Linked DNA regions of Homo sapiens: region 1 is linked to region 2. Evidence: fine-mapped expression QTL. Tissue or cell type: tibial nerve. Region 2 holds a variant in brackets; the other region holds the start of a gene. All regions are shown on one strand. Distances are from middle to middle.

Region 1 (8,000 bases), 35 kb after region 2:
CATGAGCCACCACACCCGGCTGCTTTTCTTTCTTTTTTTTTTTTTTAAATAACAAATCTGCACATGTAAAACCACTGGTTTCAACAGGCCCTGCATAGAGCAATCAGTTGAGAAAGAAAAAAAAAAGGCAACCCGTGACACTCCAGAAGCAGGCATAGCACTCACAGCCAGGCCATGTTATTCTCCTATGGGACATAAACAATCTCACAGAATACCAACCTCAGACAAGGTTACTCTGAAATCCTCATAAAATGAGACAAAGGCCATTTCACAATTTTGTTATAAGCACAGACAAATACATAGTGGCTATGCCACTCACGAAATACCAAACACCCTTTGGCCAAATTGAGTGACTGCTACTCCTGTAGCAATTACAGTTTTGTTCTTATACTAGTCTCCCTGCCCTACAGGTAAGATTTATTCAGATACCCAACCACGAAACTCCCATATTTTCTTACAGGATCTTATCTGAAGTGAAACCCAACCTCCTTAACCCTCCCCTCCCCTAATCACCAACACCCAAATCCTATAATCAGTTCTAACACCCTCCTAATGAAACACCCCAGGGTTCCCCATGGAGTATGCTCTCTCAATGCAATGAGTAATAAACCCAACTTGTTTAACTACGGGTGTGTTATTGGTGGCCTTTGGGCATTGACACGGCTTAAGTCAGAGATTACAAGTGTCTAAAAGTCTATGCCTTTCTCTTTCTGGAACATTCTCCCAGTCTTAGTTTGACAAAAATAATTCTCATTTCTGGAAGTCATCACTAACTAAATGAAAGAAAGGTAACAAATTCCTTTAACACCAGATACCTGGTTCAACATCCAACTCCAATTCTACCAATAAACATACTCCTACACAAAACTTTTTGTTTGTATATGATACGCCTCCTTCTAGATAGCATGCCCTTGAAAAGCTGGGTCTGACTCACCTTTGTAAATCTGTACTACCTTACATGTGTTAGAGGATTGCTAACACATGTAAACACTCTTTTATGAGGGTAACATCATGCTTTTAAACTAATGGTAGTTGAAATATGGGTGCCTCAAAACTACAGATGTGAAACCCCAGAGAAAACAAAAACTCAATAAGGGGGAAAAATGATTTATTTTTCCCCAAAAATTTTTAGATGGTTACTTTTTTTTTTTTTTTTTTGAGACAGAGTTTCACTCTTGTTGCCCAGGCTGGAGTGCAATGGCACCATCTCAGCTCACCGCAACCTCCGCCTCCCGGGTTCAAGCAATTCTCCTGCCTCAGCCTCCCGAGTAGCCAACATAGTGAATTACACGCATGCACCACCATGCCCGGCTAATTTTGTATTTTTAGTAGAGATGGGGTTTCTCCATGTTGGTCAGGCTGGTGTCGAACTCCTGACCTCAGGTGATCCTCCCGCCTCGGCCTCCCAAAGTGTTGGCATTACAGGCGTGAGCCACAGCACCTGGCCTGTTCCGTACTTTTTTATTGACTGCTGGAAGAACCCTCTCTAGACGGGGACTTTGATCCCCATCTACAAAAGATTTTGTTTGTTTTTTCCTATTCTATTAAACCACCGTGGAGCAGTAGAGGGAGACAGCACAGAACATTTACTCATACTCTGACCCAAAAGTATAGCCTCAGTCTGGATGAACACATTAAACGACACACCATGCAATGTCATAGCCTATTTAAAGGCATTCTGGCCACTACTGTCTTCATCTTTCAACAGGAAAACTGTTTATATTCCAGAAGCAAAGATTATATTAAATTCAATAAATTCAAGTCGACACTCAGAAAGCACCTACATTTTACCGGATCCACGGGTGATCCAAGCAGATGCCTGTTCAGAGGCAGAGAGAGTTAAATGGAGTGAAAGAGATGACAAAGTGCCATAGATGTTAAGGAGAAGTTTCCAATAAGAATGACTGTAGAAAGAACCTTCCAGAGGCTGGGCGCGGTGGCTCATGCCTGTAATCCCAGCACTTTGGGAGGCCGAGACGGGTGGATCACCTGAGGTCAGAAGTTCGAGACCAGCCTGGCCAACATGGTGAAACCCTGTCGCTACTAAAAATACAAAAATTAGCCGGGCATGGTGGCACGCGTCTATAATCCCAGCTACTCGGGAGGCTGAGGCAGGAGAATCCCTTGAACCCGGGAGGCAGAGGTTGCGGTGAGCCGAGATCGCGCCATTGCACTCCAGCCTGGGCGACAAGAGCGAAACACCGTCTCAAAAAAAAGAAAAGAAAAAAAAAGAAAGAAAGAAAGAAAGAACCTTCCAGAATGAAAATTCCAGTTTCTCAAAGCCCAGAATCTTTAGTTTGGACAGAGACATGAGGATACACAGGTCCTGGAGTCTCCACTACTACGTGCCTTCAGCTTGCTTACATTAAGGGCCAAGGAGCTCAAACAGAAATGCTTAATGTAACTTAAGAACTTTTTAAGTTCTCTGTGCAACTCAGCAAACCTGAGCTCACAACCTTCAGAACAGAGGGGGAAATCACTTCCTCCAGCTCTTGTGAATTTTAAAATTAAAAGTAATGAGAATGATTTCCATCACTGAACGGTTGCGAGGTGGGTGTGGCCCCCCACCCCTCCCCCTCCCCCACCTCCGGCAGCGCCCAGCCTCAGTAACGTCCGAGGGGCCTGGCTGGACCTCTCAGGCCAGCGGCAGGCATTCAGCTACGGCCCAGCAAGCCGCTGTCACAACCGCACCCCTGACCCAACAAGCTCATCCCACATCTCGAAGGGCCCCAGCCAACTCGAACCCCGACGGCCAGGCAGCCAGGGCCGGGCCTGGGCTCCATGAAGGCCGCCGACTGCGAACAAAGAAGAGGCCCGGGGTAGCCTGAGAGGCCCAGGCCGAGCTCTCTGGGGACCCGAAGGTTCCTGCAGCCCTCGGGGGGTTGTGCCCCCGGCCCGAGATCTGCAGATGAGCCTCGAAAAGCGCCAGCACGCCGTAAGCGCACCGCGTCGCCGACCTTGTTGGCGCACTGCAGGCTCTCCGGCGCGCACGCGGACAAAGGGGGCAGGGGTCCTGGCGGGTACCCGGAGCCGCGATCCCGCGCGCTTCCCGCCGCCCGACCCGGCCTTTACCTGTACGTCACTCAGCTCCACGCGCAGATATAGCTCGCGGTGTCGCTGAGCCCAGTAGACATGCGGCGTCAACACCTGATTCTCCATGGCCACACTGCCCAGGGCGCGGGGAGGCTAGGCTCGCTGCGCCTCGCTGCCTCAGGTAGTGCTCTGCTGGCGCGAGCAGAAAGCAGGCCTCAAACCCTAGCGCTCCTGAGCGCCTGCAACCCGGCACCTCGAGATACCCCACGCTCGCGGGCCGCGCCTGCGCAGTGACGCGCCGGGATGGCGGCGGCGCCAGCAGCGGGCCTTGGCGCGAGCCGGGCGGGGGCGGGGCGCAGGCGGGATAGGGGCAGGCCGGGGCACAGAGACGCCGCAGCTCGCCGCGGCCGCCTAGGGAATTGGAATCAGCGGGTGGTCTGCTCTCCCCACTCGTCTTCAGGGACATGCTTTAAAATAAGCTTTAAAATAAAAAAGGCTGGAGACTTATGGGGGACCGATCAGCCTGGAAAAGGGTTTGGGACTGGTGTCTCTGGACGGTCCTTCGCATTCTGTTTACTGAGTACCTACTGTGTGCCTGGGTTTCAAAGCTAAACACTGGAACAACAGAAGTGAGACACAGTCCCTTCTGTCTTAGAACTCCCAGCCTATTAAAAGATGCAAGTAATTACAGATGAAATGAGGATAATAATGGTGATAGGGGACATGGTGTGGGAGCAGCGTGGAAGAGCGTTCCAACAAGGGAAAATAAAGACCAGGGCAGCGCTGCCCAATAAAACTGTAGGTGATGATGGAAATATTGCACATTGCGCTCTTTAATACGGTAGCCACTAGCCACATGAGGCTTTTGAGTACTTGAACTGAATAACCGAATTTTCAATTTTACTCACTTCTGTTTTTTTTTTGTTGTTGTTGTTGTTTTGTTTTGAGACGGAGTTTCTCTCTTGTTGCCCAGGCTGGAGTGCAATGGCGCGATCTCGGCTCACCGCAACCTCTGTCTCCCGGGTTCAAGTGATTCTCCTGCCTCAGCCTCCCGAGTAGCTGGGATTACAGGCATGCGCCACCGGCTAATTTTGTATTTTTAGTAGAGACGAGGTTTCTCCATGTTGGTCAGGCTGGTCTCGAACTCCCGACCTCAGGTGATCCGCCCGCCTTGGCCTCCCAAAGTGCTGAGATTATAGGCGTGAGACACCGCGCCCGGCCAACTTTATTCACTTCTAATTTAAACTTAAATATCCATATTTTTGGTGGCTATTCTATTGGACAGTGCAGGAGACTGTCTCAAAAAAATAGGAAACTCAAACTAGAGACAACACTCATTTATGTCTTACTTAAGCTGTCTTGTCTGTATCGGGTTTCATCCCCAAGTTCTTCTGCAGAGAAGAATTTAATGGGAAGAAATATTTATATGAAAACTAGAACTCTGGGACAAAAATGGAACTCATATTCAATCCTGTTAGCTCCCATTTATTTAGCAAAGTGATTCTATTAGCACCCGTTTGTTTAGCAGAGGGATCTAACGCTGAAAACAAATTCTGCTAGCTCTCTGGAAACATTTAGCTCAAGAGTGGACAGAATAAAATATAGAGAGTTTTCATATAATGAATGTGCTGAGCTCACAAAGAGTTTATGATGATAGGAACTGAGGGCCGTGGGAACCATTGTCAGACATTTGAGAGCCAACCCTTGAGAACGGGATGGTGAAATGCGAGTAGGAATTTGACTGAGTAAGAACCAGGTAGGCCGTGGAAGCACAGGGCGCTTGCTTCGTTCACAGGTGAAAAGATGTGGACCAGGTGCAGCGTCTCACGCGTGTAATCCCAGCACTTTGGGAGGACGAGGCGGGAGGATCGCTGGAGCCCAGGAGTTTGAGACCAGCCTGGGAAAAATGGCAATACACTGTCTCTACAAAAAATACAACAGTTAGCAGGGCGTGGTTGGCGCGCCCCTGGGGTCCGAGCTACTCGGGAGGCTAGGGTGGGAGAATTGCTTAAGCCCAGGAGGCGAGATCGCGCCACTGCACTCCAGCTTGGGTGACAGTGTGAGGCCCTGTCTTAAAATTTAAAAAAGAGAGAGGGTTGTGGAAGGAGGTTCTGCTGCTAGGGATTAAAGGCATAGAGGAGAGAGGTCGCCCTGAATCTGGAAAGGCAGAGGGTGCATTAGGAAAGTCTTTGTTTGCTTCACTGAGGTGCCTATACTGTATCCCACAGACACATGGGAGCCAAGGAAGTTTGTTAACCTGGAGATTAGTAAAATCAAATGTGCTCAGCAAGAAAGACCTGTCAGAGAGGAGGAGGAATTGGTAGTAGGCAAAGCAATGGGAGACCAATGCAATCTGCCAAGAATGAGTTGATGAAAGCAGTGACGTTGACAGTCTTGAATTTTAACGATAAAATATTTTTTATGATAAAGGTATTTTATTGTATTGTGTTTACTACAATGCAGATGCAATATGGGGCACTTTTTAAAAACATTGAGATGTAGTTTACATATAGAACATGGGTAAATCTTAAATATTCAGTTTAAGCTGAATTTTTCTATATGTATATATCCATGTAATTATCACCTAGATCAAGATCTGGAATATTTCCAGTATCCCAGAGGTTATTTCATGTTAAAATATCTTTGCCTCTCAGTAATTACTATCCTGATATATCACCATAGAGTCTTTTTTGTCTGTTCTGTTCTTGAATTTTATATAAATGGAACCTACAGTGTCTGGTTTCTTTTTCTTTTTTCTTTTTTTTTTTTTTGAGACAGAGTCTTGCTCTGTCACCCAGGATGGAGTGCAGTGGTGCAGTCTCGGCTCACTGCAACCTCGGCCTCCCAATTCAAGCGATTCTCCTGCCTCAGCCTCCCAAGTAGCTGGGATTACAGCTGTCCGCCATCACGCCCAGCTAATTTTTGTATTTTTAGTAGAGACGGGGTTTCACCATGTTGGTCAGGATGGTCTCTAACTCCTGACCTCGTGATCTGCCTGCCTCAGCCTCCCAAAGTGCTGGGATTACAGGCATGAGCCACCGTGCCTGGCCCCTAATTTTTGTATTTTAGTAGATACGGGGTTTCACCATCTTGGCCAGGCTAGTCTTGAACTCCTGACCTCATGATCCACCCGCTTCAGCCTCCCAAAGTGCTGGGATTACAGATGTGAGCCACCGCACCGGGCCTTGGTTTCTTTCATCAACATAATGTGTATGAGATTTATCCATGTTGCTGAGTGAATCAGTAATTCATTCTTTTAGTTTTTGGTTTTGCTCTGTAGTAGTTGACTATATGAGTATACCACAAATTATTTATCCATTCTCCTATCGATGGATATTTGTGTTGTTTCTAGTTTTTAGCTATTACAAATAAAGCTGCTCTGAATATTTGTGTACCTGTCTTTTGGGGATAAATGCTCTTAATTATCTTGGAATAAATACCTATGAAGGGAATTGCTAGGTTACACAGGTGTATGATTAGCTTTAGTAGGTGTGCTAAGCAGTTTTACAAAGTGTTTTGGTCAATTTACATTCCACGGCAATGTTTGAAAGTTCTAGTTGCTCTATATCCCTAGTATTTTCAGACTTTTTAATTTAATTTTATTTTATTTTATTTTATTTTATTTTTTGAGAAAGAGTCTTGCTCTGTTGCCCAGGCTGGAGTGCATTGGCGCGATCTCAGCTCACTGCAACTTCTACCTCCGCAGTTCAAATGATTCTCCTACCTCAGCCTCCCAAGTAGCTGGGATTATAGGTGTGCACCACCACACCTGGCTAATTTTTTTATTTTTAGTAGAGATGGGGTTTCACCATGTTGGCCATGCTGGTCTCAAACTTCTAGGCTCAAATGGTCTCAAACTCCTGGGCTCAAGTGATCCTCCTGCTGCAGCCTCCCAGGCGTGAGCCACAGCACCCAGCCTAATTTTTTTTTTCCAGCACCACCCCCACCCCCAGCCAATGTTTTTAATTTTAGCCATCCTGGTAGGTGGGTAATAAAAAATAGAATAATTTTAATTCAGCGTATTTGAAACCTGAGGCTTATCAGCTGACTTCTACCAAGGTGAAAGCTATTGATATAGAAGAAGACTGAATGTTGGCATTTTGCCTCAGATGCTTCATAAGAAAGGTCCAGTGGAAGTGGGCCTATCCAGCCTGGTTTGACCACTAGTAACATACTGCAAAATGACTTCTTTAGGCCTGAGTTTCCACATTCATCAAATTAGGTAAATTTGATGAGTTGGATTTGGTTCCCTCTAATGCTCTTATCAGCTGTTTCTAAATTTTTCTGCAAAGAGACCCCACTATTATGGACCCCTCTCTGCAAGAGAAATCTAACAAGAAAAAAAATAGAAATGGAGAGAAGAAAGAGTATCATTCTGGTGAACTATAAAACTCCAGGGTGGGGCTGGACATGGTGGCTTATGCTGTAATCCCAATGCTTTGGGAGGCTGAGGTGGGAGGATCGCTTGAGTTTAAGAGTTCGAGACCAGCCTGGGCAAAACAGTGAGACCCCATCTCTATAAAAAATTTTAAAAATTAGCCAGGTACGGTGGCATGTGCCTGTAGTCCTAGCTACTAAGGAGGCTGGGAGGATCTCTTAAGCTTGGAAGGTCAGAGATGCAGTGAACTGTGATGGCACCGATGCACTCCAGCCTGGACAACAGAGCAAAACCTTGTCTCAAAAAAAAAAAAGCAAACCAAAATACGCTGGAAGGTGGCAGGGGAGATTAAAAGGCAGAGCCAAGTGGCAGTGCCAAGCTGAAATAGGTAGGGCTAAGAGTTTTATGATACTATCGGTCAAATGAAAATGCAAATTTAGCCTTGTCTTTTTGTCCTACCTTCTAGATGCAGCCTTCCCAGCCTCATTTGGCCAAGGGCCAGCTCTCCCTTCTCAGAGAATAGTCACCACTAACTACAGGAAGCATTTGCTGAGTACTTGCCATGGATTAAGCTCATTCCCAGGGCTGA
Region 2 (8,264 bases):
TGTTAGCCAGGATGGTCTCGATCTCCTGACCTTGTGATCCACCCGCCTCGGCCTCCCAAAGTGCTGGGATTACAGGCATGAGCCACCGCGCCCGGCCAAGACTCATCTATGTTGATGCATGTGGCTATAGTCCACTCATTTTCACGTGGCAAGACATTCCAATATATGATAGACATTCTATTCTTCATAGATATCTGGGTTGTCTGTTTCTGGGTTTTATTCTGTTCCCGTGGTCTGTGTGACTATCTTTGTACCATACAACGTGGTATTAGCTACTAAATCTTTATACTGTCTTGATTTTTTATAGGGTAAGTCCCCAATTTGAGCTCGTCTTTAAAGAATATTCTCGACCTTTTGCTTTTTTCTTTTTCCCATTTTAAAAATTGTGGTAAAATACACATAATGGCTGGGTGCGGTGGCTCATGCCTGTAATCCCAGCACTTTGGGAGGCCGAGGCTGGCAGATCATTTGAGGTCAGGAGTTCAAGACCAGACTGGACAACATGGTGAAACCCCATCTCTATTAAAAATACAAAAATTAGCCAGGCGTGGTGGCAGATGCCTGTAGTCCCAGCTACTCGGGAGGCTGAGGTAGGAGAATCGCTTGAACGTGGGAGGCCGAGGTTGCAGTGAGCCAAGGTCACACCACTGCACTCCAGCCTGGGTGACAGTGAAACACCATCTGAAAAAAAAAAAATACACATAACATAAACTTTACCATCTTAATCATTTTTTAAGTGTTTAGTTGAGTGGTATCAAATACCTTCATTATGTTGTGCAACCATAATCACCATCCATCTCCACAACTCTTTTCATCTTGTAAAATAGAAACTATGACCCATTGCCGGGCACGGTGGCTCACGTCTGTAATCCCAGCACTTTGGAAGGCCGAGGCGGGTAGATCACCTGGGGTCAGGAGTTCGAGACCAGCCTGGCCAACATGGGAAACCCCATCTCTACTAAAACTACAAAAATTAGCTGGGCGTGGTGATGGGCACCTGTATTCCTAGCTACTCGGGAGGCTGAGGTAGGAGAATTGCGTGAACCCAGGAGGCAGGGGCTGCAGTGAGCCTAGATTGTGCCACTGCACTCCAGCTTGGGCGACAGGGCGAGACTCTCAAAAAAAAAAAAAAGAAAGAAACTATGACCCATTAAACAATAACTCCCCATTCAGCCAGCCCCTGGCAAACACCATCCTACTTTCTGTCTCTATGGTTTTGACTATTTTAAGTACCCCATGTAAGCAGAATCATCTAGTATTTGACTTTCTGTGACTGGCTTATTTCACTTAGCATAGTTTCCTTAAGGTTCATCCACATTGTAGCATACGAGAGAATTTCTTTCATTTTTAAGGCTACATAATATCCCATTGTATGTATGTAACAGTCATTCTTATCCATTCATCTGTAGATGAACACTTGGGTTGCTTGCACATTTTAGTTATCGAAAATGATGCTACTATCCTGGATGGCCCTCTGTTTTTTCAAAAAGCTTCAGAATTTTCTCCTCACATTCCAAAATTTTTTAGATTGTGATTGGAAATGTATTGAATCTACAGGGAAATATGAGAACTAACAATATTATAATATTGAGTCTTATAATTCAAGAAAATTACGTCTGTATATTTACTTTTTGTGCTCTCTATTCCTTCCTGTATCTCAAAACAGTTCACTAATTTTCTCTTCAGCTATGTCTAATCTACAACACAAACTATCCATTAAATTTTTATTTTTTATTTTTTTTAGAGACAGGGGTCTCGCTCTGCTGCCCAGGTTGGAGGGCAGTGGCACAATCCCAGCTCACTGCAACATCGAACTCCTGCACTCAAGGAATCCTTCCGTCTCAGCCTCCCAAGTAGTGGGAATATAGGTGCACATCACCATGCCTGGCAAATTTTTATTTTTTTAGAAATGGGGTCTCACTATGCTGCCAAGGGTGGTCTCCAACTGCTGGCCTCAAGCAATCCTCCTACCTCAGCTTCCCAAAGTATGGGGATTACAGGAATGAGCCACCATGCCTGGCTGTAAATTTTAAAGTTTGATTATTGTACTTTTCATTAATACAAGTTTTTAAGAAGTACTGCCTTCATCTACACAAGGTGGGAGGAGACCACATACATTTCTAACTAAGGAGACTGAAGGTAGGTTTTTCAGCTCCTGCCTAAGAGTCAAATTTCCCTAGTCTTAAAGCTCTTTATAACTTTGTGATTTCATAAGGATATTATAAAAAATGAAAAAGACCTGAAATAGTAAAAGTCTACTTTGGTAAATAACCCTGGGGTTTTAAATGTTCTTTCTTGTTCAGGTAAAATAATGCTATTCCTGTACAAATAGGTGTTTTTACTAATTGAGACTTCTTAGCAAAATGTAACATACAGATATGGTTTGGCTGTGTCCCCATTCAAATGTCAGCTTGAATTGTATCTCCTAGAATTCCCACATGTTGTGGAAGGGACCCAGGGGGAGGTAACTGAATCATGGGGGCTGGTCTTCCCGTGCTATTCCCATGTTAGTAAATAAGTCTCACAAGATCTGGCGGGCTTATCAGGGGTTTCCGCTTTTGTTTCTTCCTCATTCTCTCTTGCCACCGCCATGTAAGAAGTGCCTTTTGCCCTGCACCACAATTGTGAGACCTTCCCCCGCCACATGGAACTGTAAATCCAATTAAACCTCTTTCTTTTGTAAACGGCCTGGTTTCAGGTATGTCTTTATCAGCAGTGGGAAAACGGACTAATACAGTAAATTGGTACCAGTAAAGTTGGATGTTGCTGAAAAGATACCCGAAAATGTGGAAGTGACCTTGGAACTGGGTAACAGACAGAGGTTGGAACAGTTTGGAGGGCTCAGAAGAAGATAGGAAAATGTAGGTAAGTTTGGAACCTCGTAGAGATTTGTTGAATGGCTTCGACAAAAATGCTGATAGTGATATGAACAATAAAGTCCAGGCTGAGGTAGTCTCAGATGGAGATGAAGAACCTCTTGGAAGCAAAGGTGAACTGGAGCAAAGGTGACTCTTGTTATATTTTAGCAAAGAGACTGGCAGCATTTTGCCCCTGCCCTAGAGATCTGTAGAACTCTGAACTTGAGAGAGATGATTTAGGGTATCTGGCAGGAGAAATTTCTAAGCAGAAAAGCATTCAAGAGGTGACTTGGGTGCTGTTAAAAGCATTCCGTTTTAAAAGAGAAACAGCATAAAAGTTTGGAAAATTTGCAGCCTGATGATTCAGTAGAAAAGAAAAACCCATTTTTTGAGGAGAACCTCAAGCTGGCTGCAGAAATTTGCACAAGTAGCAAGGAGCCTAACGTAATCCCCAATGTAATCCCCAAGACCATGGGGAAAATGTAACCAGACCATGTCAGAGGCCTTCATGGCAGTCCCTCCCATCACAGGCGCGGAGGCCCAGGGTCCCTGTGCTGTGTGCAACCTAGGGATTTGGTGCCCTGTGTCCCAGCTGCTCCAGCCTTGGCTGAGAGGGGCCAATGTACAGCTCAGGCTGTGGCTTCAGAGGGTGCAAGCCCCAAGCCTTGGCAGCTTCCACGTGGTGGTGAGCCTGTGGGTGCAGAGAAGTCAAGAATTGAGGTTTGGAAACCTCCGCCCAGATTTCAGAAGATGTATGGAAATGCCTGGATGCCCAGGCAAAAGTTTGCTGCAGGGATGGGGCCCTCATGGAGAACCTCTGCTAGGGCAGTGAGGAAGGGAAACATGGGGTTGGAGCCCCCACACAGAATCCCTACTGGGGCACTGCCTAGTGGAGCTGTGAGAAGAGGCCGCCATCCTCCAGACCCCAAAGTGGTAGATCCACTGACAGCTTGCACCATGCACCTGGAAAAGCTGCAGACACTCAATGCCAGCCGGTGAAAGCAGCCGGGAGGGAGGCTGCTCCCTGCAAAGTCACAGGAGTGGAGCTGCCTAAGACCATGGGAACCCACCTTTTGCATCAGCGTGACCTGGATGTGAGACCTGGAGTCAAAGGAGATCATTTTGGAGCTTTAAAGTTTGACCGCCCCACTGGATTTCAGACTTGCATGGGCACTGTAACCCCTTTATTTTGGCCAATTTCTCCCATTTGGAACGGCTGTATTTACCCAATGCCAGTACTCCCCTTGTATCTAGGAAGTAACTAGTGTGCTTTGATTTTACAGGCTCAAAGGCAGAAGGGACTTGCCTTGTCTCAGATGAGACTTTGGACTGTGGACTTTGGGGTTAATGCTGAAATAAGACTTTGGGGGACTGTTGAGAAGGCATGATTGGTTTTGAAATGTGAGGGTATGAGATTTGGAGGGGCCACGGCTAGAATGATATGGTTTGGCTGTGTCCCCATTCAAATTTCAACTTTAATTGTATCTCCCAGGATTCCCACGTGTTGTGGCAGGGACCTAGGGGGAGGTAAATGAATCAGTGCGGCCGGTCTTTCCCATGCTATTCTCAGGATAGTGAATAAGTCTCACGAGATCTGATGGGTTTATCAGGAGTTTCTGCTTTTGCTTCTTCCTCATTCTCTCTTGCCGCCACCACGTAAGAAGTGCCTTTCGCCCTCCACCATGATCGTGAGACCTTCCCAGCCACATGGAACTGTAAGTCCAATTAAACCTCTTTCTTTTGTAAACTGCCCAGTCTCAGGTATGTCTTTATGAGCAGCATGAAAATGGACTAATACACATACCCACTAGACAAATAATGGGACCTTCCATTACCCACCCTTCAGCTTAACTATTCAATACCTGGATCAGAGAAGGCAGCACCGGTGA[C/T]GTAGTGACTCCAATTGCTGCATTGATAGTTTCCACAACTGCCAGCATCTGGCAGAAATACATCATGTCAGCCACAGTATGGAATGTGTCATAAAAGGACTCTATAGGCAAAAATATACATTAAGGGTGAATCAGTTGGTAAATTCCAACAGAACTATTTCTCAAACTAGATTACTCCTTTCGTGAAAATAACTGTAAGAAAGGAATAACAAACATCCAGTCAGATTCAAGTTTCTTACTTAACTAAGCAGGAAGGGTGCAGGCCAATGGGGTCATGAATAGTAAGCTCTACCAGTTACCAGAAAGTTAACACGTACACCTTATATGCCTTTCTCTTTTTTTTTTTTGAGATGGAGTCTTACTCTGTCACCAGGCTGCAGTGCAGTGGCACGATCTTGGCTCACTGCAACCCCCGCCTCCTGGGTTCAAGTGATTCTCCTGCCTCAGCCTCCCGAGTAGCTGGGACTACAGGCACGCACCACCATGCCCAGCTAATTTTTGTAATTTTAGTAGAGATGGGGGTTTCACCATGTTGACCAGGATGGTCTCGATCTCTTGACCTCGTGATCTGCCCACCTAGACCTCCCAAAGTACTGGGATTACAGGCGTGAGCCACCACGCACAGCCACCTTTCTAAATTTTTTTAAGAGTCAAGGTCTTGCTCCATCACCCAGTCTAGAGTACAGTGTCATGATCACGGCTTACTGCAGCTTCAACCTCCTGGGCGCAAGAGATCCTTCCACTTCAGCCTGTTAAAGTGCTGGGATTACAGGTATGAGCTACTACACCTGGTCCATACTTTCATTATCAGGTAGAAAAATCCTCTCCCATTAATCTTTCTTCTCCTAAATTTTATTACCTATTTATTCATCAAATAAAGTTTCAGAATACTTTAGATCAAATTCTCAAAAATTTCCCATTGGCATTTACCAATGGAATGCCACTGGTCAAAGCCAGAATCCTGCTAAACACATAAATTAATTTAAGAAGAACTAATATCTTTATGATGCTCTTTTTATTCTGTTTTAGAATAGTTCATTTTAGAACGTATTTAGGCTCCAAAAGGGTGAGAACCCTTTTGGCCTTGCATAACTTTGGCACTGGAAGTATCACATCAATTTATTTAGTTGTTAGTGAACATTTTTACAAAAGGATTCTAGCCCAAGATGTGGCTCTGGCTAGCTATGGATGTGAACCATTTTTGACCATCTCTAGGCCTATATTTTATTACCTGTTATATGGAAAGAATACCAGTCAGCTTATTTCACAAGGCCATGGGAAATAAGAGCTATGAAAGCACAACGAAAAGTAGAGGGTGCTGCACAAATGCAGGGGTTATTATTAACATCAAAGGCAGAGAGTGCTCCCTTTGGTGAATACTGGGCCAAACTACTGAGAAAGGGAAAATTAATCCAAAAATGTCTTACTTGCCTTTTCCCAAGATACAGAATCGCACAGTCAGGTTGACAAAGATCCAGGAGAATCCCAAGAATTGCACAAGATTATACATAAACAGGTATCCTTTCCTTAAGTTTGTAAGAGCTGTAAAGCAAAGCAAAGCAGTAAGCTATTAAAAGCAATAGTCCCAGCAGGAGACAGGTGTATGAGGCATATCTGGATGACTTCAACCCTTTTTCCTTCCTGAATGCTCCTAAGCTCCCACACAAATACCTGGTCCAGGTCCTCACCAGCCTGGGCTCCTACTCCCACAGAGAAACATACAAGGAACATTGCTCTCCAGCATGTATTTTCAGCAGGACTTCCTTTCCCAGCCTTGAAGAATAGGTATACAGACATAACAAACCCAAGAAAAAAATATTACCCCTGGTGTGATATTATGATATGTGTATATGTATATATAGGTTTTCGGCAACGGTTTCTGGCTTATAACTCCCACAGCCCTTGTTACAGTTTTTTGTTATAATGTTGGGACACTTTAGGCCTCAGACAACAGAATCTCCCTCTATGACCTTCCCTGCCTTCCTTTCAGCTGCCCAAGGCACGACTCTAATCTGATTGTGGGTCCTAAGACCCTCATTCCAGAGAGGGTCTTGCCTCATACTCTGGAGGAGGGAACACTGCACAGAGAGGCTGAGAAGAATCTGGACAGACAGGCCTTGCTGGGTTTAGGTCAGACCCTTTTTGTCCAATCACATTTCAACACAGTTCAACACGCTTCAGTCATGCCTATCCGATGAAGTCTCCATAAAAGGCCCAAGGGGACAGGGTTTAGTCAGCTTCCAGACAGCTGAACACACGGAGGTTCCTGGAGGGTGGCACACCTGGGGAGGGCATGGAAGCTCCGCGCCACTTCCTCCATACTTCCTCCTAATCTCTTCATCTGTATCCTTCATAATATCCCTTATAATAAATGAACAAATGTGTTTCCCTGAGTTCTGTGGAGCCACGCTAGCAAATCAATCAAACCACAGGAGCGGGTTGTGGGAACCGTAATTTACAGCCTATTGGTCACAAGTTCTGGAGGTTCAGACTCGGGACAGGCTGGGGGCAGGGGTGTGTCTTGGGGACTGAGCCCTCCATCTGTGGGAACCTGATGCTATCTCTAGGTAAACAGTGTCAGAATTGAACCAGAGGGCACCCAGCTGGTGTCTGCTGCAGAACTCATTGCTTGCTTGGTATGTGGGGGAAAAAACCCACCCACTTGGTCACAGAAGTCTTCTGTGTTGATTGTTGTTGAGTAAGAAAATAGGAAAAAGCAGTTGAGTGTTGTAGTGTTGTATTTTTTCCATAACACCTGGCAAAAAAATGAGTGGCCATCTGAAGAGGCATTACAAAAAGGAAATAAAGATTTCCTCAGCTCCGGCTCAATTTTTTTTTTCTTTTTTTTTTGAGACAGAGTCTTGCTCTGTCACCCAGGCTGGAGTGCAGTGGCACAATCTCGGCTCACTGCACGCTCCACCTCCCAGGTTCAAGCAATTCTCCTGCCTCAGCCTCCCGAGTAGCTGAGATTACAGGCTTCCGCCACCACGCCCGGCTAATTTTTGTATTTTAGCAGAGACAGGGTTTCATCATGTTGGCCAGGGTGGTCTTAAACTCCTAACCTCAGGTGATCTGCCCACCTTGGCCTCCCAAAGTGCTGGGATTACAGGCATGAGCCACCGTGCCTGGCCCTCCAGTCATCTTAATATAATCCATAGTTTCTTCTTTTCTGGAATTTCTTTAAGGTCACTGAGGTCAAACTAGCTCAAAGAGACAGATACAGTAAATGAAAAAAACAACCCTGATATTTGGTTATATATTCACTCAACCAAGCATTAACTGAATACCTACAATGTGCAAGGTACTGTGAGAAGAACTACTGGGATACAAAGGTAGTTCAAGGCTGCCCTCAGAGCTTACAATCTAAAAACTGTAATACCAGGTGGGGAGTAACAAGTAATGTCTTGTGAAACTTTCAAGGTGAAAAAACGACATTAGGCTGGAGAAGTAGGCATCAAGCTAGTCTACATGGATAAAGCTGGTATCTAATCCGGGCTTTTTTTTTTTTTTTTTTGAG

Direction of the effects. Positions count from the first base shown, and alleles are read on the strand shown. Sizes are in standard deviations (SD) of each study's normalised expression.
With allele C in place of T in region 2, the expression in tibial nerve of the gene that starts at base 3,328 in region 1 is lower (small effect, 0.18 SD a copy in GTEx).

What was found. PIP is the estimated chance that this variant, and not a neighbour inherited with it, causes the effect.
Region 1: HACD3 starts here. The variant in region 2 is fine-mapped to the expression of HACD3 in tibial nerve (GTEx, PIP 0.93).

The regions. Positions count from the first base shown.
Region 1 is chr15:65,525,791-65,533,790 of GRCh38, reverse strand. It overlaps HACD3 (3-hydroxyacyl-CoA dehydratase 3), which reads right to left and starts at 3,328. Exons shown (of 11, transcript NM_016395.4): 1 at 3,073-3,328. The coding sequence starts at 3,159. RefSeq lists a silencer at 3,246-3,465 and an enhancer at 4,504-5,004.
Region 2 is chr15:65,560,799-65,569,062 of GRCh38, reverse strand. HACD3 (3-hydroxyacyl-CoA dehydratase 3) reads right to left here. Exons shown (of 11, transcript NM_016395.4): 6 at 6,179-6,289; 7 at 4,721-4,848. Among named protein-coding and RNA genes, the nearest start is that of HACD3, 34 kb to the right of the region's middle. The variant C/T (reference allele first, on the strand shown) is at 4,748.